7 linked regions of the Homo sapiens genome follow. The protein of the gene in region 3 interacts with the protein of the main gene of each other region in a biochemical or structural test. Each region holds a gene or a part of one and is shown on either strand. Other genes may lie near its edges.

Region 1 (3,309 bases), on a different chromosome or scaffold from region 3:
GGCTCCTGTGCCTCTCCCTATCAGTTGGCCAGTGGAGCTCGAGAACAAACTGTTGCTGCCAGATAAAGCAGCAAAGCCTGCTCCACTGCCCAGCGCAGGCCCCCTTCCCTTCCTCCACCAGGCTGAGTGGAGAACCCTAAAGCTACGGGACAGGCTCCCGTTCCCCGTGCCTACACAGGGTGCTGGCTCTGGCAGAAAGACAGTGTGCCCGCCCCGCATCACCTGTCCGAGTGCGAACACCTTGGGAAGGGGGTTCCTGGTGGTCCTGTGACAACCAGAGACCCCCAGGGCCAAGGTGAGGCGCCCACCCCTGGTCCCTCAATAAAGAACTGCAAGCACATGCTGGTCCTGGGGAGTCGGGCAGGCACGGAGCTAGCTGCAAGCATCCGTCTTCCCCCAGGAGGCCACTGCAGCCCGGCCCTTCTGTGCCCTGGGCCCCTCCTCATTGCAGCACCACCCACCGCACCACCCTGGGACAGAGGAAACACATGGAGGCCATAGCATAGAGCCTGTCTGTTTATAGATCTCTGCCTGTCTTGTCCGTCCATCCACTGTGTGTATATATCTGTGTATCTCTGTGGAGCGGGGAACGGGACAGTTGTGTAAAAATCCAAAATACAATTCTGACTATGAACAACCTGCAGGGTCAGTCCAGGTGTGGCTGTGAAGCCCCAACCAAACCACAGGACACGGGGTTGGGGGAAGGCAGACTGGCAGGCCAGGGTGACCCTCCTGACCAGAGGTGCTGCCCAGACCCGAGCCCGTTTGTCCTACTGGGGCTATGGCGGCCGACCCACCAGTGCCCAAGACCGCGAGGCTGCCCTGCCTCCCCAAGACCAGCCCTGCACTGGGGGTGGGGGTGGGCGGCTGGCCCAGCTCCTCCGGGGCCTCTAGGAGACAGTGGGGTCCTTGGCTTTGGGAGGCTCCGAGCCTGTCAGCAGGGAGATGGTGGGGTCCTCGGCGAAGCCGTCCCCTTCGGAGAAGTAGGAGCCCTCTCCCAGCTCAAACAGCACCGGCAGGTCGTTGCTCCCGGTGTCCACGGAGCCGGGGTCCAGCAGGAACAGCGGCTGCGCTGTGTAGTGCACCAGCTGCTTCCCTGCGGGGGTGGGGGTGTCAAGGCGGTGGGGGGTTGGGGGCAGAGGTGGGGCCGGTGGGACTTGGCTCACCTGAATCCGGGCTGCTGTTCTCTGCCTCGGGAGGCCTGGGGGGCTCCTGGGGAGACAGGAGCTCTTGGATCTGTGGGGTGGAGACGGTATTGTGAGCACTCCCGCTGGTCTCGTTCCCCCTCACCCCCCGCCCGCCTACGCACACTGGCCAGGCTGCTGTCAAGGTCAGGCAGGCTCATGTCGGGCACGGTCACCGAGGGGCTGAACAGCTGCGGAGGAGGGAGGGAAGTCAGAACAGCACCCGGGGGCGGGGCGGGGAGGCGGGGCGGGGAGGCGGGGCGGGGAGGCGGGGAGGCGGGGCGGGGAGGCGGGGAGGCGCGGGGAGGCGGGGCGGGGAGGCGGGGCGGCGGCGCGGGGAGGCGGGGAGGCGGGGCGGGGAGGCGGGGCGGCGCGGCGGGGAGGCGGGGCGGGGAGGCGGGGCGGCGGGGCTCCACTCACGTCCAGCAGGGCACTGGTGTCCACGCTGAAGCCGTGGCTGCTCAGCATGGTCTGCAGGTTATCCAGGTTGGAGTCCATAGCATCCAAGTGGTCACTGAGCTCATTCCTGGCCCGGGATAAGGCGGTACCTGAACCAGTGCCCCAGGCCCCACACCCCAATGCCCTCCTGTGGGAGAAGGGCTCCCCTTGACTGTACCCCCCAGGCTGCACCCCCGTGTACGCCTGCACAGGCTGGAGGGGGCAGCGCATTCGAGGACGGCCTGGAAGGCAGTGGAGGCTCTGTGCCCTGCAGGGGTGCGGCTGGGCCTATGCTGGGCATCCCTTTGCCATGAGGGCCTGGGGGCCTTGGTGGCAGTGGACCCAGGAGACAAGGGGCGTATTCAGCTCCAGCACAAGGATCAGGGATTTCAGTGTTCAGGGTTGGTGAGGTTTCCCGTTGCACTGGGAAAACAGGTGGGGCTCTGCTCAGTGTGTGGGTGGCTCAGTCCCTGCCCTGGTGCTGCTGTGGGGATGAGACCCACGGTCTGGTGGCTGTGACCAAGAAAGCCCTAGGCCACAGGGCACACCTGGGCTATGGGACGGACAGCCAGGCTGGGTCCCAGAGGTGCCCTGGAGACCCTGCCTGACAGGAAGTGCAGTCAGCACCGCAGTCTGGATCCTGCCAACACCAGAGGCCGTGCCAGAGCAGGGAGGCCTGTCCCTGTCATCCCTGTCACAGGCAATGACCACAGGCCCGTGGCCAGGGGAGCCATGACGACACTGAGCCCCCGCCACAGAGGGGTCTCGGCTGCTGCCGCCCAGGCCCGACGCTCATGCCCGGCCAGGCTGGGTCTGGTCCACGGCTGTGTGGGAGGGCCCGAGCGCTGGCAGAGCCCTCCTCCCTCCCCAGTGGGGTCAGCGCTAACCCTGGCTGGACTTGGCCATGCGGAGAGGAAGAGGGGCAGGGGAAGAGGCGGGCGACCCTAGACATCTGTGGAGTGCGAGCCAAACTGCAAGATACAAAAACAAGAGCCCCCATTGCAGGCAGGGGCTGGGGGTGTGGAGGCCGGCCCTGCTCACCATCTCCTGCCATGTGTCTGGGCAGCACGACCTGCCAGGGCCCGTGGCCTGTGGCGAGGGTGGCGGCAGCAGGACGGGTGGCTGAGAGCAGGGCCCGGCAGCCTGTCCGGACATGCCCGTGGCTTCTGTGGCGTTTGGGACTGTGGGGTGATCTGGCTGGCACCTGTCTCCCTCCCCAGCCCCGAGCTCCGAGGTTGGGGGTAGGGTCCTGCCTCGCCAGCTGCCCTGCTCAGTCCACTGGGACAGTCGGGGCTGAAGCCCAGGGCTGTGCGTCCAGGCGCTGTGGGTGGGGCCAGGGGTGGGCGGCACTCACTTGTCCAGGCAGGCTACGCTGAGGCACTTTTCAGGGGTGGAGGTGGGCGGGGGGGAGGGAGGCCGGCCCTCGGTGTCCGTGTGGCCCCTGGCGTCCGTGAGGGCTGTGACGGAGGCGGGGGCAGGTTCACTCTCCCGCAGGATGGAGTCAATGAGGGCGGTCGGGGACAAGAGGGTGTCCACGGAAGATGGGCGCCCGGGACTCGCCTCCTCTACCCGGGGGCTCTGAGGCGGGCTGGGGGGCTCCTCCTTGACACGCACCAGGGGGCTGCTGGATAGGGGCCTGCACACGAGGGGGGCCAGGTGAGCTGGCGTCTCGGCCAGCCCCACCTCA
Region 2 (3,500 bases), on a different chromosome or scaffold from region 3:
GGGATTACAGGCATGAGCCACCACTCCCAGCCTGAATCCTCACTTTTTATCAATGAAGAAATTGAGGCTGATTCTGCAGCATGATAAAAAAAAATACAGAAAAAGGAAAAAAAAGAAAGAAATCGAGCCTCTGAGAGTTTGCTTGACTGAGTCTAACCAGCTCATTTTAAACCCGAGGAAAATGCAGTCACATGACTACTAAGTGGCAGCTCTCGGAGCCTCTCTGGCCCCAAGTCCAGGGTTCCATAGAGGCAGCCCCAGCATGGCATGTTTTCAGTCCCCAAATGAGACTCTGGAGACAAATGTCTCTGGAGACAGAGCAGCAGCCTGGATAAGTCACAATGGGTGACGTCACTCAGGGCTCAACCCCTGGGCAGCTTAACTTGCTAGGGACGTTAGGAGTCTGCTGCAAAACCTGAGGGTCTTAGCTGAGCAGTCACAGGCTGGGCCCGTTGCCCTGGGCTCCTGTGAGTAAAACCCAGTCAATTTTGAGTACCCAGTAAGGCATCCATTGAGTTATTTTGCAGCCAGGAGTGCTATTAAGAACAGTCGCGGCTGGGCGTGGTGGCTCATGCCTGTAATCCCAGCACTTTGGGAGGCCAAGGTGGGCGGATCACCTGAGGTCAGGAGTTCGAGACCAGCTTGGCCAACATGGCAAAACCCCGTCTCTAATAAAAATACAAAATAATTAGCTGGGCGTGGTGGCGGGCGCCTGTAATCCCAGCTTCTCAGGAGGGTGAGGAAGGAGAATCACTTGAACCCAGGAGGCAGAGGTTGCAGTGAGCTGAGATCGCACCATTGCACTCCAGCCTGGATGACAAAAGTGAGATTCCTTCTCAAAAAAAAAAAAAAAAAAACAGTCGTCCTCTTTGGGGATTAGGGACAGCCTGCCTGCCTGCCCGAGCACTTCTCTCTTCCATTGCCCCAGTGAAGTATTCCAGGCCCCTGGGTTTAGACTCTGCACCATGTAGGGGTGTCTGACCTGCACTTGCTCCTTGGTGGCACGGGCAGCCTATGGCACTTGCTGCGGGCTGTGACCAAAGCCTGGCCTGGATCTTGGATCTTGGTGACTCTGCTTCTCCCTGGCCTGAGGGAGCTGCCCAGAGCCTGCCCACCACCTGCTGCGTGTCTTTGCGGTGGCATTTCTCGCACACATGCCGTGCAGTGGCACCCCCAAGGATGGCCATTCACTAAGGCCCATTGTTTTTGTCTTTTCGCTTCGTGTTTTCTGGCCTGGTGTTTTTCTCATATACATGTGATCCAGGGATAATTCCCAGAATTTTGACAGGATTTTAAGTAGCGTTTGGATCCTGCTGTTTTTTTTTCACTTAACATCGGGCCAGTTGACTCACACTCTGTTTTTTGTTGTTGTTTTTTTGAGACGGAGTCTCACTGTGTCACCCAGGCTGAAGTGCAGTGGCACAATCTTGGCATACTGCAACCTCTGCTTCCCAAATTCAAGCAGTTTTCCTGCCTCAGCCTCCTGAGTAGCTGGGACTACAGGCACAGGCCACCACGCCCTGCTAATTTTTGTATTTTTAGTAAAGACAGGGTTTCACCATTTTGGCCAGCCTAGTCTCGAACTCCTGACCTCAAGTGATCCGCCCACCTCGGCCTCCCAAAGTGCTGGGATTACAGGGGACTCACACTTTGTAACAACCTGAAACAACGTGATGCATTTCCCTTTGGGTCTTACCTGCTCTTCGGTGGCTGCCTGCAGGTGGAGAGACCCTCCCCCTTGGGCCCCTCGACCTTGTTTCAGAATGGGGCCCCTGCTGGGCCAGCTGTGGGTGCCTGCCACGTGAAGGACTCATTAAGGCCCTGTTTAAGCCTGATGATAATAAGGCTTTCGTGGATTTTTCTCTTTAAGCGACTAAGCAAGTCCAGAGAAGACCACCCCCTGCAGGGCCCAGATCTGAGAGAGGTACTCGGGAGCCTACTTCGCTGGGAGCAGCCTCCCTTTGCGTGTGTGGCCATTCACTGGCTTGTGTTTCTAGAGCCGGGAGGACCCTTTTCTGCAATGCAGGGTTCACACAGGGTTCGCAGCCTGAAGATGGAGCAGTCCGAATTCTCTTCCCTGTGCAGTTTGCGCAGCTGTGTTTGTCTGATGGGCTTTCTAATCCTGTGTGCTCTCCTTGACTTCAGGGACAATGGCATTACAGGCATGAGCCACCATGCCTGGCTGTCTCCCTATGTTTCAGATGAAGACATAGGCTTAAGGAGGTCAGGTGACTTGCCCACGACCACTCTGTAAATAAGAGGCATGAAAAGTATTTGGAGCCACCACCACCAAGCCCACTGGTCACCCTGGGTCTCTGAAGTCAGGGAGGCAGGAGGATGGGAGGTCTGAGGAGGCAGAGAGGCTGAGCCTGGAGGCCCTGGAGGCCGAGGCCCCATCTGTTGTTTCCTTATGTGGAAAATAAGAGGCTTCGTTTGTCCTATTGCCACAGAGCGTACTACTTCAGGAACATCCAAGACATGGAAATCCGCAGGGCACGGTGGCTCACGTCTATAATCCCGGCACTTTGGGAGGTTGAGGTGGGAGAATCGCTTGAGGCCAGAAGTTCAAGACCAGCCTGAGCAACATAGTCAGACCCCGTCTCTATAAAAAACATTATTTTTAAAAAAGACATGGAAGTCAAATTCTAAAAACTGGTGCTGGCTGGGTGCGGTGGCTCATGCCTATAATCCCAGCACTTTGGGAGGCCGAGGCGGGTGGATCACCTGAGGTCAGGAGTTCAAGACCAGCCTGGCCAACATGGTAAAACCTCTACTAAAGAAATCTTTACTGAAAATACAAAAATCCAGTCTCTACTAAAATAAGTCTCTACTAAAAATACAAAAATTAGCCAGGCGTGGTGCTGCACACCTGTAATATCAGCTACTCGGGAGGCTGAGGCAGGAGACTCGCTTGATCCCATGCAGCGGAGGTTGCAGTGAGCCGAGATCACGCCATTGCACTCCAGCCTGGGCATCAGAATAAGACTCCGTCTCAAAAAAAAAACCACAAAAAAACAAAACAACAACAAAAGAAAACTAGTGCTTATTCGTCACTGGCCAAGCTGCCCATTGGCTACATGGGTGCTTCAAAGAGCTGCCCTTCTCCAGGTCTGGCCAGCAGGTATGTGTTACAGCAAATGCCTGGGGCAGCGGCAGGGGCATTGCTGCGGGAAGCTTCTGGACTTGCAGGAAAGCTAAGTTCTCAGACTGCAGGGGAGCTAAGCACACCTCGGCACAGGGTGAGGCCTGCGGTTCTCAGACTTCAGTCTTTGTGGAGCTTGAGAAAAATGAGGCTTTGCAGGTCCCACCCCTAGAGATTCTGCTCTATCCACTCTTGAAGGGGATCGAGAAATTTGCATTTTGCAACTCCCACTTTCCTCCTTGAAAGCTCCGGAGATTCTGACGCAGGGTTCCGTGGGCCACACTTTGGAAAATACAGACCCATGAGATAGAATACCAGACTGTTGAAGTGTAACGGGGGCCTGGGAAGTGCAGTAACA
Region 3 (3,500 bases):
AGAACACTTACCATGAATGGAACTTGCAGGACTGGAAGTTGTTCTGGATGAGTCAGCGAGTGAGCAGTGAGTGAACATGAAGGCCTAGGATATTACCATACACTACCGTAGACTTTATAAACACTGGACACCTAGACTACATTTATTTTAAAATTTTTCTTCTTTCTTTAATAATAAATCAATCTTAGCTTACTATAACATTTTTACTGTGTAAACTTTTTTTTTAGCTTTGACTCTTGTAATGACACTTAGAACACAAACACTGTACAGCTGTACAAAAATATTTTCTTTCTTTATATCCTTATTCTATAAGCATTTTTCTGTTTTTTAAATTTTTTATTCTTTTACTTTTTAAACTTTTTTTTGTTTAAAACTAAGACACAAACACATACATAAACCTAGGCCTACAGAGGGTCAGGATCATCAGTATCACTGTCTTCCACCAACACATCTTGTCCCACTGGAAGGTCTTCAGGACAGTAACATGCATGGAGCTGCTGTCTCCTATAATAACAATGCCTTCTTCTTGAATACCTCCTGAGGGACCTGCCCAAGGCTGTTTTTTGTTTGTTCATTTGTTTTTGAGACAGGATCTCACTCTCACCCAGGCTAGAATGCAGTGGTATGATCATAGTTCACTGCAGCTTGGAACTCCCAGGCTTACATGATCCTCCTGCCTCAGTCTCCTGAGTAGTAGAAACTACAGGTACATGCCACTATGCCTGGCTAATTTTTTTAATTTTTTTTCTACAGATAGGGGTCTTACTATGTTGCCCAGGCTGGTCTTGAACTCCTGGCCTCAAGTGATCCTCTTGCTTTGGCCTCCCAGGGTGCTGGGATTACAGGCATGAGCCACTGCACTCAGCCAAGGGTGTTTTACAGTTAACTTTTTAAAAAATAAGAAGCACACTCTAAAATAATGATAGAAAGTATAGTAAACACATAAACCAGTAATATAAACATTTATTATCAAGTATTATGTACTATACATAACTGTGACTGCAGTGCAGTAGGTTTGTTTACACCCACATCACCACAAACACATAATACACTGTACTACCCATGCTACAACAGCTATGGCACCACTAGGCCATAGGAACTTTTCGGCCCCATTATAATCTTATGGGACCACTGCTGAAGGTGCAGTCTGTCACTGACTGAAATGTCATTATATGGTGAATGACTGTATAGTGCTTTAATAAGTAGGAAAGCTAATTCAAAAGTAAGATATATTCTAAGAGGAAATCGCAAAAGATATCTTCACTGTACACAGGAACAATATTTATATATAAAAATAAACCCCTTTGGGCCGGGCACGGTGGCTCATGCCTGTAATCCCAACACTTTGCGAGGCCAAGGCAGGCGGATCACCTGAGGTCAGGAGTTCAAGACCAGCCTGGCCAACATGGTGAAACCCTGTCTCTACAAAAATTAGCGAGGCATGGTAGCAGGCGCCTGTAATCCCAGCTACTCGGGAGGCTGAGGCAGAATTGCTTGAATCCAGGAGGCGGAGGTTGCAGTGAGCTGAGATCATACCACTGCACTCTAGCCCAGGCAACAGAGGGAGACTCTGTCTCAAAATAAAATAAAATAAAATAAAATAAAATAAAATAAAATAAAATAAAACCCCTTTGAATTTTTCAAGTTAGCTTTTCTTTCCTTAAAAAGTCTTCAAAATTGTCATTAGCTAGCTTTAGTGTACTAAAAGGATACATTAAAATAGTAACCTATTTGTATACTCTGAGAATAGGGAAATATAGCCCTTTAGAGTGAGATATAACTTGGACCTGAACCCCAGGTAAATCTGCATTACTAAGATATATGATATTAGGCAAGTTAATTTACCTAGCCCAGTCTCAATTTCAACATCTATAATCTGGGATTAAAAATTAAAATCTCTAGCTGGGCACAGTGGCTCGTGCCTATAATCCCAGCTACTCAGAAGGCTGAGGTGGGAGGATTGCTTGAGGCCAGGATTTCAAGACTTGCCTGAGCAACATAATGAGATGCCCTCTCTCAAAAATTTAATTAATTAATTTAAAAAGAAAATCCCAGCTACTCAGGAAGCTGAGATGGGAAGATCACTTGAACCCAGGAGCTCAAGACCAGCCTGGGCAACATAACGAGACTCAACTCTTAAAAAAAACCTTGAAGTTATGAAGACAAAATGAGAATCTAGCTCTAGTGTTTGGCACTTAGTAACCATCAATAAACATTATCCACCCCAGCCCCCCTCAGAAAGAGATGCTATAATCTTTCCAGACAGCAGGTTTCCTTGTATGTCACTCAGCTTTGTGGCCTCACCTTTAATACTCCCCTGTCTTTTTTGGAGGTAATATCCTCTCCCTGCTCAGCAACAGTGGCTGTGGGGCTTTCTTCATTGTTCTTGGCACCTTCATCAGTAGTCATTGTCTTTTAAGTAGAGAACCTGGTAAGAAGAAAAATATTTTAGCTGGGAAAAATATCACTTCTTTATGAATCTTGAATGTCCCTGGGAACTGAGCTCTACCTAACCTAAGATTTACTTAGGGCCAATAAGCTTAGATACTGAAAATGAAAACAAAGGCATTTGCTATGAGCATGTATTGATGTCATCAGGCATGTAAATAAAACATCATCCAATTCTTTAATTTCCCATCTAGCTCTGGTCTCAAAACAGAGAACAGTACAAGTCAAGTTGGGTAGTGATTACATTCCTTAACATAACATGGTGAGAAGCAGTCCCTTCACAACTTTGAAAACATCCTTTTTCTACAGCCATATTCTTGACAGAGGATTAAGACCTTATCAGTTCTTAATAAAAGAAGTGACAATATATCAATCACAGTGAGACACAGAACAGGATTTAGAATCCAACAGACCCAAGTCTGGGTCCTAGCTGCAGCTCTTGACATTTCCAGTTTCCTTAATCTTGCTGAGCCTTCATTTTTCATCTGCAAAATGGACACAGTACACTATTCATAGTTACAGTGAGATAACATTTCTTAAAAGATTAGCATAGATTGGTAACTTAAACATATTTAACCATTTATCATCATTATTGGGCCTTCTGTAGGGTCATTTTTCATCTCCTGCCCAAAATACCTACAGAATGTTCTTCCATGTGGCATTCAAGGCCCTTCACAATCTGGCCCTAATCTATCTTTGAGTTCTAGCTGCCATTATTTTATTTTACTTTCTTTCATGCAGCTCATGCTCCAGCCAAACTAGGCCAATTCCACCTCTACAACAAACCCAGTGCTTTCCCATAGTCATTCTTCTGGTCACTCCCTTTCTTGTTTCCAAAACATCCACCTCTCTCAAATCCTACTTCTGTCATACCAACCTTGACCCTCTATTTGTAGGCCATTTTGCCCTTTTACGTACTTCCTTAGCTCTTCTCTCGATTTGTTGTCTGTAAGAGATTCATAAGACTATGCGCCTGTTAGGTTTAAAAGATCCTTCAGAGCAAGGTCCATGCTTTGTTCATATTTAGATTCCCTAGAATGCCTCTACCTTTG
Region 4 (4,283 bases), 8.6 Mb from region 3:
TGCTCTGCCACCTTCCAGACTCACTCCCCTCTGCAAATACCTGCATTTCTTACCCTGGTGAGAAAAGCACAAGCGGTGTAGGCTCCAATGCTGCTTTCCCAGGAGGGTGAAGATGGTGCTGTGCTGAGGAAAGGGGATGCAGAGCCCTGCCCAGCACCACCACCTCCTATGCTCCTGGATCCCTAGGCTCTGTTCCATGAGCCTGTTGCAGGTTTTGGTACTTTAGAAATGTAACTTTTTGCTCTTATAATTTTATTTTATTAAATTAAATTACTGCAGTGGACTTGGTCCTGTGTTTTGGTTGACTGAAAGGGCATTATTATATGGTAGTTTTTCCAAACTGCCTTTAGCTTCAGTGTGTGAACTCTTAAGACTCACTGGTATTCTGTTATTTTCACTACAAAACCAGCTCAACTTGCTGTGCTCATGAAAACAGCAAGAGCTGGAGGGATGAAGAAGCTAGGGAAGGATAACATCCACTTCACAAGGGAAAGCAGAACTGTATAAAAACGGCATATTCTTTATTTTGCATACTTTAATTTCAGAACAAAATGAAGAAAATAAAATAAACCACAATACACAACATCCAATCCTGCTGTCAAGAGTAGAGAGGGAATGGGGCTTGACACCCTTAGTTTACTGCCTTCAACACAAGGACAGGAGAGGGAAAAAAACACTAGACACCAGCAGGGGGAGCCAGGTGGGACAGGGGCACTCGAGGCTGCAGTGGGAGCCCATGGGGACACTATACAAGGGCACAAGTTTTCCAACTATGAACTCCTAACCTAATCGACTTCTTCCATGCGAGACGCATCCTCATCGCCCTCGAGAGGGGGGATCTCATCAGGAACTGCAGCATTGGGTTCCTCTGCTGCCACTTCATCTTCATCAATACCTGAAGTAAAATTAAGCCATGTGAGACTTGACCAAATAGCATTAAGTCAAATCCATAGAGGAGACGAGTTGCACAAACTCCTTGCCACACCAAGTACCAAAGCTACTTACCTAGACCTAGCTTGATCATGCGATAGATGCGGTTGGAGTGGGTCTGGGGATCCTCAAGGGAAAAGCCAGAAGATAGCAGGGCGGTTTCAAACAGCAGCACCACCAGGTCCTTAACTGCCTTATCATTCTTGTCGGCCTCAGCCTTCTGCCGCAGCGTCTCCACAATGGGGTGGTCAGGGTTGATCTCCAGGTGCTTTTTGGCCATCATATAGCCCATGGTGGAGTTGTCCCGAAGTGCCTGGGCTTTCATGATCCGCTCCATATTGGCTGTCCAGCCGTAGGTGCTGGTCACAATGCAGCAAGGTGAAGACACAAGTCTATTGGAGATTGTCACCTGTGGACGATCACAAAAGCCTTAGATTGACATTACCACTTTGAAAGAGAAAACAGGCATTGTCAAGCCTAATTCCAGCAGGGGGAGGAGGTGGACAGACCACTTGAGTTTGAGACCATGCTGGCCAACATGGCAAAACCCTGTCTACAAAAAATTAACCGGGTGTGGTAGCACACATCTGTAATCCCAGCCACTCAGGAGACTTGAGTTTGCAGTGAGCGAGATCCAGTCCAAAAAAAAAAAAAATCGGCCAGGCATGGTGGCTTGCGCCTGTTAATCCCAGCACTTTGGGAGGCCGAGGTGGGCGAATCACAAGGTCAGGAGATGGAGACCATCCTGGCTAACGCGATGAAACCCCATCTCTACTAAAAATACAAAAAATTAGCCGGGGTGTGGTGGCGGGCGCCTGTAGTGGCAGCTACTCAGGAGGCTAAGGCAGGAGAATGGCGTGAACCCAGGAGGCGGAGCTTGCAATGAGCAGAGATCGTGCCACTGCACTCCAGCCTGGGTGACAGAGCGAGACCCCATCTCAAAAAAAGAAAAAAAAAAGAAAATGATGGTATTTTATCTACTCTCAGAAGTTAACTGAAGCAATGCCTAATCTGTGCCAAATTTTATTAAAATAGCCTTAAACCTGACTAGAGAAGAGAACAAGAGGCAAGAAGGCATGAAACAGTAAATAGGCTGCCTCAAACCACTAATTGTATAGAAACATGCTTGTGAGGGAGCCCACCTCGAAGATGTTACAAAATATATCCTAGCCCCAGAATGGCTTACCTTCTCAACCTTCTTATCTAAGATTTCTTTCATGAGCTTGCAGAGGTTCTCAAACTTTGCCTTGCTCTCTTCCATCTTCTTCTTCTCCTCCTCATCCTCAGGCAGCTCCAGACCCTCCTTGGTAACTGAGACCAGGCTCTTCCCATCAAATTCCTTGAGCTGCTGCACACAGTACTCGTCAATGGGCTCGGTCATATATACCACCTCGAAGCCCCGTTTCCGCACTCGCTCCACAAAAGCTGAGTTGGCCACCTGCTCTTTGCTCTCACCTGTAGGGTAATTAAATGAACTCAGTGACTAAAATGCCTCATACTGCCAGTTCCCAGGAAGCCCTAATTGTGCTCCCCACTCCTCCAAAAAGGCTTCAATCAGAGTCAACGCACCAGTGATGTAATAGATGGACTTCTGTGTCTCCTTCATGCGAGAAACATACTCTGACAGAGATGTCATCTCATCTCCAGACTGGGAGGTATGATAGCGCAGCAGCTCAGACAGGCGGCGGCGGTTAGTGGAGTCTTCGTGGATTCCAAGCTTGAAGGGTGGGAAGAGGAAAAACAATCCAGCTTAACTACAATAACTTCACTTTCAATGTGAATGGAATAATTTATTGTTATTACTAAGAAAGTGGTAAAGGGAATAAGCATTATTTGCCTTTTTACCTTGAGATTTTTAGAGAATGCCTCATAGAATTTCTTGTAATTCTCCTTGTCTTCTGCCAGCTCAGAGAAGAGCTCAAGGCACTTCTTAACAATGTTTTTGCGAATGACTTTCAAGATTTTGCTCTGCTGGAGCATTTCTCGGGAGATGTTCAGGGGCAGATCCTCAGAGTCAACCACACCACGGATAAAATCTGCCATCAACCAGGGTGAGAAAGCTCAGTAAAAAACAGCTAGACCAGACCTGGTCCCCAGATTCAAACAGAAGGCTCTAATAGCCTCCTGAACCCTTACACCTACTATGTATTGCAGAAAACTGTTACCTTAGAATATCCTAGCAGAATGCCTAAAACCTCCCAAGACTTCACCCAACTAAATTAGGCCAAGGAGATACTCACTGAGATACTCTGGTATCAACTCATCACAGCTGTCCATGATGAACACACGGCGGACATAGAGTTTGATGTTGTTCTTTTTCTTCTTGTTCTCAAAAAGGTCAAAGGGAGCCCGACGAGGAATAAATAGCAATGCCCTGAATTCCAACTGACCTTCTACAGAAAAGTGCTGAAAGAAACCAAAAATAAGTGGTACATTTCAAAAGAGGACCTTTTAGCCCCAACACCAAATTATCTAAAAGTGGAACAATGATCCTCCCTAAGCCTAAGGGATAGAGCACACACAACAAGCAGCTCCTGAGAAAACTGAGCCTTAATGCCCTCCACGATCTAGATGGGTACTAGCTGTATGTAGAAAACAGTCCCCTCTGATCAGAACCCTGGATGTGTAAGGCTGCCAATAGACATTACCCAGATTTCCATAAGAAGAGAAAGTGAGGTCATTAGAAATGATGGCACTTCACTATGACAGGGTAATCAGTAAGTGAAATCACATGGCTATCACATTTCTGTTATCAGTTGGACAAGTTCCGTGTGTCTATTACCCAACACTCTTCCACCTAACTCATTCCTCTCCATATGTGCATGTTGAGCCAACATGCAAAGGCTTCTCACACCTTGACTGCCAAGTGGTCTTCCCAGTCATTAGTGAGGCTCTTGTAGAATTCTCCATACTCCTCTTGGGTGATGTCATCAGGGTTTCTGGTCCAAATAGGCTTGGTCTTGTTTAGTTCTTCCTGATCAATGTATTTCTCTTTGATCTTCTTAGTTTTCTTCTTCTTATCCTTACCGCTGTCATCCTCCTCATCTGAACCCACATCTTCGATCTTGGGTTTTTCTTCATCATCTTTATCTTCCTCTTCTTTCTCACCTTTCTCTTCCTCTGCCTCATCATCACTAATTTCCTTCTCTCGTTCCTTCTCCAACTAAGTAACAAAAACAGAAGTTAGCCTTGGAGTACAAAACACTACCAGGGAAAGCAAAAGCCAGGGACAATGAGATTCTCCAGAACAGGAAACATCCTGCACGTTAAGTGTAAAAGATTTAAAAGTCCATACTCACATAAAGGGTGATGGGATAGCCTATGAACTGAGAATGCTTCTTCACTACTTCTTT
Region 5 (3,500 bases), on a different chromosome or scaffold from region 3:
GTATATATATATGAATCACTGAAGTCCTAGCAGAAAGGTTTTGAGACTTCTCATTTAATAAATAGTATGTACTAACAAATTTTGCAGTATAGCTGTTGCTTCAAAAGTATACCTGGCCATTTTTGATACACAGTTGGACTCTTTGTGACCAAGAAGCATACCTCTTTCTACCTCTGAGACCTTTAGGGACTCACTGCTGATTGATTGCAGTCTAAACTCTTCAGCATAGCTTTTGTAACCTTTCTCTGTTTGCCACAACTTTGTCAATACTTTAACTCACCATTCAACATCTTGTATACCCTATACTAAATAGAAGTGAATTACTCACCCTTTTTTTTTTTGAGATGGAGTTTTGCTCTTGTCGCCCAGGGTGGAATGCAGTGGCACGATCTCGGCTCACTGCAATCTTTGCCTCCCAGGTTCAAGCGATTCTCTTGCCTCAGCCTCCCGAGTAGCTGGGATTACAGGCGCCTGCCACCACACCCGGCTAATTTTTGTATTTTTAGTAGAGACGGGGTCTCACCACATTGGCCAGGCTGGTCTCGAACTCCTGACCTCAGGTGATCCACCTGCCTCGGCCTCCCAAAGGGCTGGGATTACAGATGTGAGCCACCATGCCCGGCCTACTCACCATTTTCTAAACTCCCTCACACTTTACTCTAGTTCTTCATTCATACTGTTCTCTACTGAGATTGTATTCTGTTAAACTCCTTCAAACTCCTATTCGTCTTTGAAGACCTATTTTCAAATACCAATTCTAGGCTGGGTGCTGTGGCTCACGTGTATAATCCTTTGGGAGGCTGAGGTGGAAGGATTGCTTGAGACCATCATGGGCAACATAGTGAGACCCCATCCCTACCAAAAAAAAAAAAAAGATTACAAATTTCAAATACCAATTTCTCTGTGATATGTTGTTATTCATACATTCAATCCAGAAGTGAACTCTCCTTCCTTTGTGTTCTGTTTCTTTAATGCTTTGGGCCCATTTTAATGACAGTCAACCATATTTGTGCCCGAATTAATGTAGTTAATTTGTGTTCTTACCTCTTTTCCATCTGGGAATCTGAATTATGTTAAATGCCATTAAAACTAAATGCCATTAAAACTAAATGTCATTAAAACTAATTGATCTGAGATTATACATAGTGAGTTCTTATTTTGTATTCTGTAGATTCCATGCAATGGAAAAGCAGCTGATCGCATCCATCAGGATGGAATTCATATCCTTGTAAATATGAATGGCTATACTAAGGGCGCTCGAAATGAGCTTTTTGCTCTCAGGCCAGCTCCTATTCAGGTAAACAAATTAACAGTCATCACTTATAACATGTATTTGGCTAAGAATACAGTGAGGTGCTGCTTTTCCTCCCTCTGGTTAACTGATATTTGAAACTGTAGGGCAGACATACTTTTAATTTTTTTAAGTTGTTGAAATGCACAGGACAAAAAGAGTGTAGAGCACAGTGCTTATAGGTACATGTATATAGAGACATGCAATTCATGGTTGGCTATGAACAGTTACTCTGTCTTGCAAATTTGAAGAACATTTTAGCATTTTGAAAGTTAGTCTGAAATACAGGCCGGGTATGGTGGCTCACGCCTGTAATCCCAGCACTTTGGGATGCTTAGGCAGGAGGATCTCTTGAAACCAGGAGTTTGAGTCCTGCCTGGGCAACAAAGCAAAACACCCTATCTCTACAAAAAATTAAAAAATTAGCCAGAGTGGTGGTGTGCCTCTGTGATCCCAGCTATTTGGGAGGCTAAGGTGGAAGGATTGCTTAAGCTTAGGAGTTTGAGGCTGCAGTGAACTATCACTATGCCACTGCACTCCAGCCCAGGTGACAGAGTAAGAGTCTCTCTTATAGAACTGCTTCATTGCTTTCGGCTAAAGAAGTCAGCCTTGCTGTGCGTGTGGCAAGTGCCTGTAATCCTGGCTACTCTGGAGGCTGAGGCAGAAGGATTGCTTGAGCCCAGGAGTTTGAGGCTGTAGTGATCTACGATTGCACCACTGTATTCCAGCCTAGGGAACAGAGTGAGATCCTGTCTCTAAAAAAGAGTTAGACCTCCTTGTTTATTTACTTATTTAATTTTGGCACCTTTAGGTTCTTTTTTTAAAAACCACTTTATTGAGGTACAGTTGACATACAAAAAGTTGTACATATTTAATGTATGTGACTTGATGAATTTAGAGGTAAGTGTACTGATAAAAGTTCTTAATCAGTTTTTGATCTGATTTTTTTAAGGCAATGTGGCTGGGATACCCTGGGACGAGTGGTGCGCTTTTCATGGATTATATTATCACTGATCAGGAAACTTCGCCAGCTGAAGTTGCTGAGCAGTATTCCGAGAAATTGGCTTATATGCCCCACACTTTTTTTATTGGTGATCATGCTAATATGTTCCCTCACCTGAAGGTAGGTATGAAACAGTGCTATGGACGAATTTCAAAGAACTGTAGCTTTTTATTTCCTTGCTATTGTCTATGTAAATCCTAAAAGACATGTCTGAAACTATTTTTTCCATTAGAAAAAAGCAGTCATCGATTTTAAGTCCAATGGGCACATTTATGACAATCGGATAGTTCTGAATGGCATCGACCTCAAAGCATTTCTTGATAGTCTACCAGATGTGAAAATTGTCAAGGTCAGAACCTAGTCAGTATTGTCATTGAAATAAAGTTAACTGCATTCACGATCTTTTCCCTAATGATGCATTTTTTTTTCAGATGAAGTGTCCTGATGGAGGAGACAATGCAGATAGCAGTAACACAGCTCTTAATATGCCTGTTATTCCTATGAATACTATTGCAGAAGCAGTTATTGAAATGATTAACCGAGGACAGATTCAAATAACAATTAATGGATTCAGTATTAGCAATGGACTGGCAACTACTCAGGTGAGAAGATAATAATACACCATTATATGTCCCGCCAAGTATGCATTTATTTCCCTTAACCTCATGATAACTCTAGGAGGCAAGTATCATTATCACCATTTTTATGGATGAGGAAATGAGTTTAGTGGAAACGTGCATCTTATATAGGTGTGTCTGATTTTAAAAGTCTCCTGGATTCAGCCAGCAGATTATTACTTACTGAGAAACTGCTGTGTTAATATCTTGTTATTCCCTGCCTGTGGCTTTACTCTCTTACATGATGAACTATGTGTAGATTCCATACAGTTTCTTGCTTCTGTAAACCCATCCTTTCCCTAGCTAAATCCTACTCAAACGTTCAGTTCAGACAGCTCTTCCAGGAATCCATTTCCGTACTTACCGCTAACGTCTCCATCCCTACTTCATTGGTACCTGTCTTTTATACCTCTGTAATGTTTGGAATATATCATTACATACAGCACAACAGATGATAATTCCCTGTGTTTGTATCCTCTACTGAATTGAATTACTGAGCCCATGTCTTAATCACAGTAATGTAGTATGTACTCAATAAATAATATATTGCATGCTTAAATAAGTAGCTCTATCAAGAGAGTGTAAGGCA
Region 6 (3,500 bases), about 120 Mb from region 3:
TATGGAGTAAGTCTGGGCCAAAATGATAATTGACAATGTTATTTACATGGATTTCTAAGTTGGCTAAAAAAGTTCCTTTATGGTTAGTGAATATAGCCCATGTAGTTTCCCCGTCTTCTTTAGATGCCTTCTATTTCTATGCCCAAAGTCTGCAGTTGATTTTCAGTAAGCTGGGGGTCATCTTAGAGATAAAATGTAGATGAATGGCATTTTGCTGACAGCATACATCTTTGCTATTTCTGAGGAAAATGGGCTCTCGCTATTAAATCTTTTGTCAATATTTATAAAAATAGTATTTACATATTCTATCTATATTGTGGAAACTATACATTTATTGATTCAGTCATTTGATATCAATGTTGTTGAGTCCCTATTCCAAGTGAGGCACTATGCTCTAAGCACATGGCATTTTAAAGATGAATAAGACACCAAGAACTTTGCAGATAGTAATGGAAATGAGAATTAATCAATTGAAGATTAATATAGTAAGTAGCAGAAGAGAAATAAAAAAATCTTCTAGAGAGTTCAGAACAGGGATGTTGATTCAAGTTTATGGGGATTAGGAGTGGCTGGTAAGGGAGGCATTCAGGCAAAAGACATAAAAATGCAGTATTCCCCTCGCACTCATTAGGATGGCTACTATATTAGAAAAAGAAGAGAGTAAGTGTTGGAGAGGATATAGAGCAAATAGAAACCTTGTGCCTTGTTCATGAGAATGTAAAATGGTGCAGCCACTGTGGAAAACACTGGTGATTCCTCAAAAAATCAAAATAGAATTATCATATGATCCAGTAATTCTACTTCTGGGTATATATCTAAAAGAATTAAAAATCTGGGTCTTGAAGAAATATTTGTATACTCATAGTTATAGCAACATTATTCATAATAGCCAAAAAGTAGAAGCAATCCAGATGTCTATAGATGGATGAATGGGTAAACAAAGTCTGTGTAGTATATACAGACAATGGCATATTAGTCACATCATGGACCTTCAGGACATTATCCTAAGTGAAATATGCTAGACACAAAAAGCAAAAGTAGGGTTTCACTTAATGAGGTATCTAGAATTGCCACATTCACAGAGAACAAAAGTAGATTGGTGGCTGCTAGGGGATAGGGGAAGGAGAAAATGGGGAATTATTGTTGAATGGGTATGGAGTTTCAGTTTTGTGAAATGAAAATGTTCTGAAGACTGGTTGCACGATGATGTGAGTATATCTAACATGATTGAATTGATGAACACTTAAGCGTGGTTACGATGGTAAATTTTGTGTTATATATATCTTACCACAATTTAAAAAATATAGCATTTTATTATGTAGGCGTGGGTGGGAAGATACTTGACACATTGGAACTTCTGGCCATGCGTATACTGTTCACTCACTTATTCCTTCATTCATTCAACAAACATGTATTGAATGCTTGCTATGTGCTGGGCACTGAGCTAGATATAACAATTAATAAGGCTTATAAGACATTGAATCTATCAATTTCATGCTTGCTAAATATCTACTCCCACCTCCAAAGGCACTAAGCTTCTACAGTTAGATATTCATAGCTGCTTCCTACTGACTTGAATCATGCATAGGATATTAGTAAACAAGCAATAAAAAGATTTGAGGTTGATGGGGGTGGGTTCAACAGCATGGTGGTGAAATGGAAAGAGATGGGTAACAGAATATGAACTAGAATTGAAAACTGTGAGCCAGTGCTCTCTAATGAACATTAAAAAATAAAGAATTCCTATTTGAGGCTGCCAACCTCAGAACTAAGTTATTTAGAATGGACGAAATTGGCAAAGTCAGACGTACTCAACCCAAGGAGCCAATATTTTGTGAATATTATGGCAAATGTAGTTTGAGAACCACTACCACAAAATTGTGAACCATAATAATGACTGAGAAGGCAGGGAGAGGTTATACAATTTGGGCTAAAAGGAAAGACAGGGCTTGTGAAGGGGAGCGCCAGTGAAAGTCAGTGTGGTTCGGGTATTTGGGTGGGGACTGGAAGCAGGAAGCTTGAGCTTCCTTTGCCAAGAGACCCTGCTGGAAGGGCTATCATCAATTGACTTTAGCTCATCTTAGGATTTTCATTTTTTAAAAAATGTTCACAGGAACCTTCACTCCATCTATACTTTCAATGTCTGCCTACCTTTCTTTCTTATACAACTTTGAACACTCTCTCCATTCATTTAAATATATTATGGAGTGCCAACTACATGCCAGGTACTGTGCTGGGCTCTTATTCCACCTTTATTTGATTGCACATGCCTGCCAAGTCCTGGGCCAATATAACATCTACTCCTATGTCTGGTCTGGCGAGAGATGCAAACTCATCTTCCTCTACTTTCCTTACCTCCTTCCTTCCAGTCTTCTTCAAGTTGTCTTCATTGAGGCAATTTCTTTTACCTGTGTTTTTAATCCCAACTCCTCTAGTTTCCTTCTTGGCTTTATTCTTTTATCTTCCTCTTTGTGCTTTCAAACATTCCCTTTCTCCTGGCCCATGCCCTTCAGTCTACACGAGGCCTTCTCAAGTCTCTTCATTCTAAAAAATTCATTTTCTTGGGTCTTATATTCTTCAGCTGCCACCCTATCTGTATCTTTTCCTATTCTCCTCCAAGTTCTCAAAGGAATGCCTTCCCTCATTTTCATCTCCTTACATTCCATCTGCTGAATTTTGGCTTGTGCCTGTACCTGTCTAAGGAAACTCCTTGCTAAGAGTCTGCTTTGTCAGGTCTGAATTCACTTAACCAGTCTTTGCTTTGTTGGACTTCTCTGCCCCATTTGCCATTCTTGATCATCCTCTCCATAAACCTTTCTACTTAAAGCATTTTACTTCCTTATTTTCTTGGTTTTCCTAGAATCTCCTTACTGTTCATTTTCAGCTTCCTTTCTGTGTTCCTCTTCTCTTCCTACATTTTTTTTTAGCTTTCTACTTTCTTAAAGCATTTTACTTCCTTATTTTCTTGGTTTTCCTAGAATTTTCTTACTGTTCATTTTCAGTTTCCTTTCTGTGTTCCTCTGATTGTCTCTCTTTCTACATTTTTTTTTTCTGTGTTCCTCTGATTTTCACGCAGTCTGGAGTTGTCATGATCAATCATAGCCTACTGCAGCCTCGACATCCTAGGCTCAAGTGATTCTCCCACCTCAGCCTTACAAGTAGCTAGGACTACAGTCACACATCACCATTCTCAGCTAATTTTTTTAAGAAGCATTTTTATAGAGATGGAGTCTTGCTATATTGTGCAGGCTGGGCTCAAACTACAGGGCTTAAACAATTCTCCTGCTTTGGCCTCCCAAAGTGCTGGGATTCCAGGCATGAACCACCATGCTCAGTCTCTACATGTTCCTAAAGAGGAGTTTTGAATATTGAAGAACAGTATTTTCAAATTACATTATTCAAGTTATAAAAACTGATATCCAGGGTTATGTGGCAATGACGTAAAAATTTGAATTGTTATTTTTTTGACACATGTTCTGTGTTGTCCATCAGTTCATCTG
Region 7 (3,803 bases), on a different chromosome or scaffold from region 3:
TTACATAGTACCAGTTTTGTCCTTGGAATGACTCAGTGCATTTGGTTTATATTTTTTTCAGACTTCATTAGAGGGGTGGTAGACTCGGAGGATCTCCCTCTAAACATATCCCGTGAGATGTTGCAACAAAGCAAAATTTTGAAAGTTATCAGGAAGAATTTGGTCAAAAAATGCTTAGAACTCTTTACTGAACTGGCGGAAGATAAAGAGAACTACAAGAAATTCTATGAGCAGTTCTCTAAAAACATAAAGGTTGGTGTAAATAACCATTAGTTTTCCAATTGGCCTCTTTAGTTTTTTTTTTTTTTTTTTAATTCAGAAAGTCTTTGTAAAGAACATACTTTGTTTCAGCTTGGAATACACGAAGACTCTCAAAATCGGAAGAAGCTTTCAGAGCTGTTAAGGTACTACACATCTGCCTCTGGTGATGAGATGGTTTCTCTCAAGGACTACTGCACCAGAATGAAGGAGAACCAGAAACATATCTATTATATCACAGGTAAGAGAACACTATGTTACAGTCATACACGTCGTTCTTACAATCTTGTAGGCTCTGTGGGTGTGTTTTCTACTCAGGTAGCACTGTTACAACTGGTATTGATCTAGGCAAGATAATTAACATGAACTAGGTCATTTTCTGTCTTAGGTTCTGCCTAGGTATCTGGCTAGCAAGAAAAGTCAGAGCTAGATGAAACCATTCTTAACTGTTAAAAGGTCTAAAAGTAACTTTGTAATACCTCAGGTGAGACCAAGGACCAGGTAGCTAACTCAGCCTTTGTGGAACGTCTTCGGAAACATGGCTTAGAAGTGATCTATATGATTGAGCCCATTGATGAGTACTGTGTCCAACAGCTGAAGGAATTTGAGGGGAAGACTTTAGTGTCAGTCACCAAAGAAGGCCTGGAACTTCCAGAGGATGAAGAAGAGAAAAAGAAGCAGGAAGAGAAAAAAACAAAGTTTGAGAACCTCTGCAAAATCATGAAAGACATATTGGAGAAAAAAGTTGAAAAGGTATGTGAATACAGCATTTCCTGATCATTGATACTTCTAAGGTGCTTTCAAGCTTAGTCATACATAGCCCATTTTCGCATGTTTTCAACTTAAAACAGAAAACTATGTTGTGTGTGGCTGGGCGCGGTGGCTCACGCCTGCAATCCCAGCACTTTGGGAGGCTGAGGCAGCGGATCACAAGGTCAGGAGATCGAGACCATCCTGGCTAACACGGTGAAACTCAGTCTCTACTAAAAATAGAAAAAAATAAACCAGGCGTGGTGGCACGGCCTGTAATCCTAGCCACTTGGGAGGCTGAGGCAGGAGAATCGCCTGAACCCAGGAGGCGGAGGTTGCAGTGAGCCAAGATCGCACCACTGCACTCCAGCCTGGGTGATGGAGCGAGACTCTATCTCAAAAAAAAAATTGTGCATGTAAAACATGAAATTATAACCTGTGCTCTTTGGATACCTAATGCGACATTTAAGTTGTATTTGACAGTAGATAGTATTTTGGATCTATTGAAATTTGGGTTCTACAGATTTCATTTCACAATGAAAGTTTAGGAATTAATCTTTCTAGGTTCCTAGTCATCACTTTTTGATTACAGGTGGTTGTGTCAAACCGATTGGTGACATCTCCATGCTGTATTGTCACAAGCACATATGGCTGGACAGCAAACATGGAGAGAATCATGAAAGCTCAAGCCCTAAGAGACAACTCAACAATGGGTTACATGGCAGCAAAGAAACACCTGGAGATAAACCCTGACCATTCCATTATTGAGACCTTAAGGCAAAAGGCAGAGGCTGATAAGAACGACAAGTCTGTGAAGGATCTGGTCATCTTGCTTTATGAAACTGCGCTCCTGTCTTCTGGCTTCAGTCTGGAAGATCCCCAGACACATGCTAACAGGATCTACAGGATGATCAAACTTGGTCTGGGTAAGCCTTATACTATGTAATGTTAAAAAGAAAATAAACACACGTGACATTGAAGAAAATGGTGAACTTTCAGTTATCCAAACTTGGAGCACCTTGTCCTGCTTGCTGCTTGGAGGTATTAAAGTATGTTTTTTTTAGGGATAAGTAAGGTCTTACAAGAGCAAAGAAATGAAATTGAGACTCATATGTCCTGTAATACTGTCTTGAAAGCAGATAGAAACCAAGAGTATTACCCTAATAGCTGGCTTTAAGAAATCTTTGTAATATGAGGATTTTATTTTGGAAACAGGTATTGATGAAGATGACCCTACTGCTGATGATACCAGTGCTGCTGTAACTGAAGAAATGCCACCCCTTGAAGGAGATGACGACACATCACGCATGGAAGAAGTAGACTAATCTCTGGCTGAGGGATGACTTACCTGTTCAGTACTCTACAATTCCTCTGATAATATATTTTCAAGGATGTTTTTCTTTATTTTTGTTAATATTAAAAAGTCTGTATGGCATGACAACTACTTTAAGGGGAAGATAAGATTTCTGTCTACTAAGTGATGCTGTGATACCTTAGGCACTAAAGCAGAGCTAGTAATGCTTTTTGAGTTTCATGTTGGTTTATTTTCACAGATTGGGGTAACGTGCACTGTAAGACGTATGTAACATGATGTTAACTTTGTGGTCTAAAGTGTTTAGCTGTCAAGCCGGATGCCTAAGTAGACCAAATCTTGTTATTGAAGTGTTCTGAGCTGTATCTTGATGTTTAGAAAAGTATTCGTTACATCTTGTAGGATCTACTTTTTGAACTTTTCATTCCCTGTAGTTGACAATTCTGCATGTACTAGTCCTCTAGAAATAGGTTAAACTGAAGCAACTTGATGGAAGGATCTCTCCACAGGGCTTGTTTTCCAAAGAAAAGTATTGTTTGGAGGAGCAAAGTTAAAAGCCTACCTAAGCATATCGTAAAGCTGTTCAAAAATAACTCAGACCCAGTCTTGTGGATGGAAATGTAGTGCTCGAGTCACATTCTGCTTAAAGTTGTAACAAATACAGATGAGTTAAAAGATATTGTGTGACAGTGTCTTATTTAGGGGGAAAGGGGAGTATCTGGATGACAGTTAGTGCCAAAATGTAAAACATGAGGCGCTAGCAGGAGATGGTTAAACACTAGCTGCTCCAAGGGTTGACATGGTCTTCCCAGCATGTACTCAGCAGGTGTGGGGTGGAGCACACGTAGGCACAGAAAACAGGAATGCAGACAACATGCATCCCCTGCGTCCATGAGTTACATGTGTTCTCTTAGTGTCCACGTTGTTTTGATGTTATTCATGGAATACCTTCTGTGTTAAATACAGTCACTTAATTCCTTGGCCTTACAGTGTCTCAAAGTTCTTTACAAATCTACTTAAAGCCATCCTGGCTGAGGCAGGAGAATCGCTTGAACCTGGGAGGCGGAGGTTGCGGTGGGCTGGGATTGCACCATTGCGCTGCAGCCTGAGCAGCAAGAGCGAAACTCCATCTCAAAAAAAAGATGAAAAAATCAGCCCAATAGGTAAGAGTCCCTCTGGGGACTGGGGGTGGTAATGGCTAAATAAAAGTCTTCACTTCTGAAATTTGGTGGTTCTAGAGACAAAACTTGGTTAGATAGCATATAGGATTTGCATTCTGAGCCTAACGCCATATATAAAAATGATAGGAAATGCCTGGGACTTGGATATGTGACAGTGTCTAAGGGGGCAGTGCACAGGCAGGGAGAGACCTTGTCTCAGTCTCGTGCTAAGCAGGTATTGAATGCTTGGTAAATGGCAATCACGTTTAGTCCTTTAAATTCTCTGAAAAGTTCTTAATCCCCTTCGATAATATACAGGAGGA

The links.
Region 1: the proteins of FKBP5 (region 3) and HSF1 form a complex in vitro, tested with the Homo sapiens proteins (one study listed by BioGRID).
Region 2: the proteins of FKBP5 (region 3) and MAPT form a complex in vitro, tested with the Homo sapiens proteins (2 studies listed by BioGRID and IntAct, with this or other methods).
Region 4: the proteins of FKBP5 (region 3) and HSP90AB1 interact in a biophysical measurement, tested with the Homo sapiens proteins (2 studies listed by IntAct).
Region 5: the proteins of FKBP5 (region 3) and OGT form a complex in vitro, tested with the Homo sapiens proteins (one large-scale study listed by BioGRID).
Region 6: the proteins of FKBP5 (region 3) and ESR1 form a complex in vitro, tested with the Homo sapiens proteins (one study listed by BioGRID).
Region 7: the proteins of FKBP5 (region 3) and HSP90AA1 form a complex in vitro, tested with the Homo sapiens proteins (5 studies listed by BioGRID and IntAct, with this or other methods).

What each region holds. Positions count from the first base shown.
Region 1 is NC_000008.11:144,311,912-144,315,220, reverse strand, and holds the end of HSF1 (heat shock factor protein 1), read right to left. Parts: intron 3,259-3,309; coding exon 2,977-3,258; intron 2,594-2,976; coding exon of another isoform or gene 2,510-2,593; intron 1,711-2,509; coding exon 1,605-1,710; intron 1,376-1,604; coding exon 1,310-1,375; intron 1,237-1,309; coding exon 1,167-1,236; intron 1,097-1,166; coding exon 891-1,096; 3' UTR 501-890; downstream 1-500. UniProt on the Homo sapiens protein: Functions as a stress-inducible and DNA-binding transcription factor that plays a central role in the transcriptional activation of the heat shock response (HSR), leading to the expression of a large class of molecular chaperones, heat shock proteins (HSPs), that protect cells from cellular insult damage.
Region 2 is NC_000017.11:45,992,054-45,995,553, forward strand, and holds part of MAPT (microtubule-associated protein tau), read left to right. Parts: intron 1-1,870; coding exon of another isoform or gene 1,871-1,924; intron 1,925-3,500. UniProt on the Homo sapiens protein: Promotes microtubule assembly and stability, and might be involved in the establishment and maintenance of neuronal polarity.
Region 3 is NC_000006.12:35,640,416-35,643,915, forward strand, and holds part of FKBP5 (peptidyl-prolyl cis-trans isomerase FKBP5), read right to left. Parts: intron 2,429-3,500; 5' UTR 2,410-2,428; coding exon 2,305-2,409; intron 1-2,304. UniProt on the Homo sapiens protein: Immunophilin protein with PPIase and co-chaperone activities. Component of unligated steroid receptors heterocomplexes through interaction with heat-shock protein 90 (HSP90).
Region 4 is NC_000006.12:44,250,101-44,254,383, reverse strand, and holds the end of HSP90AB1 (heat shock protein HSP 90-beta), read right to left. Parts: coding exon 4,230-4,283; intron 4,094-4,229; coding exon 3,785-4,093; intron 3,337-3,784; coding exon 3,171-3,336; intron 2,967-3,170; coding exon 2,776-2,966; intron 2,648-2,775; coding exon 2,500-2,647; intron 2,386-2,499; coding exon 2,117-2,385; intron 1,340-2,116; coding exon 1,006-1,339; intron 896-1,005; coding exon 786-895; 3' UTR 501-785; downstream 1-500. UniProt on the Homo sapiens protein: Molecular chaperone that promotes the maturation, structural maintenance and proper regulation of specific target proteins involved for instance in cell cycle control and signal transduction. Undergoes a functional cycle linked to its ATPase activity.
Region 5 is NC_000023.11:71,560,604-71,564,103, forward strand, and holds part of OGT (UDP-N-acetylglucosamine--peptide N-acetylglucosaminyltransferase 110 kDa subunit), read left to right. Parts: intron 1-1,171; coding exon 1,172-1,297; intron 1,298-2,243; coding exon 2,244-2,414; intron 2,415-2,526; coding exon 2,527-2,643; intron 2,644-2,725; coding exon 2,726-2,896; intron 2,897-3,500. UniProt on the Homo sapiens protein: Catalyzes the transfer of a single N-acetylglucosamine from UDP-GlcNAc to a serine or threonine residue in cytoplasmic and nuclear proteins resulting in their modification with a beta-linked N-acetylglucosamine (O-GlcNAc).
Region 6 is NC_000006.12:151,838,682-151,842,181, forward strand, and holds part of ESR1 (estrogen receptor), read left to right. Parts: intron 1-3,500.
Region 7 is NC_000014.9:102,080,242-102,084,044, reverse strand, and holds the end of HSP90AA1 (heat shock protein HSP 90-alpha), read left to right. Parts: intron 1-61; coding exon 62-252; intron 253-351; coding exon 352-499; intron 500-742; coding exon 743-1,011; intron 1,012-1,600; coding exon 1,601-1,934; intron 1,935-2,223; coding exon 2,224-2,333; 3' UTR 2,334-3,303; downstream 3,304-3,803. UniProt on the Homo sapiens protein: Molecular chaperone that promotes the maturation, structural maintenance and proper regulation of specific target proteins involved for instance in cell cycle control and signal transduction.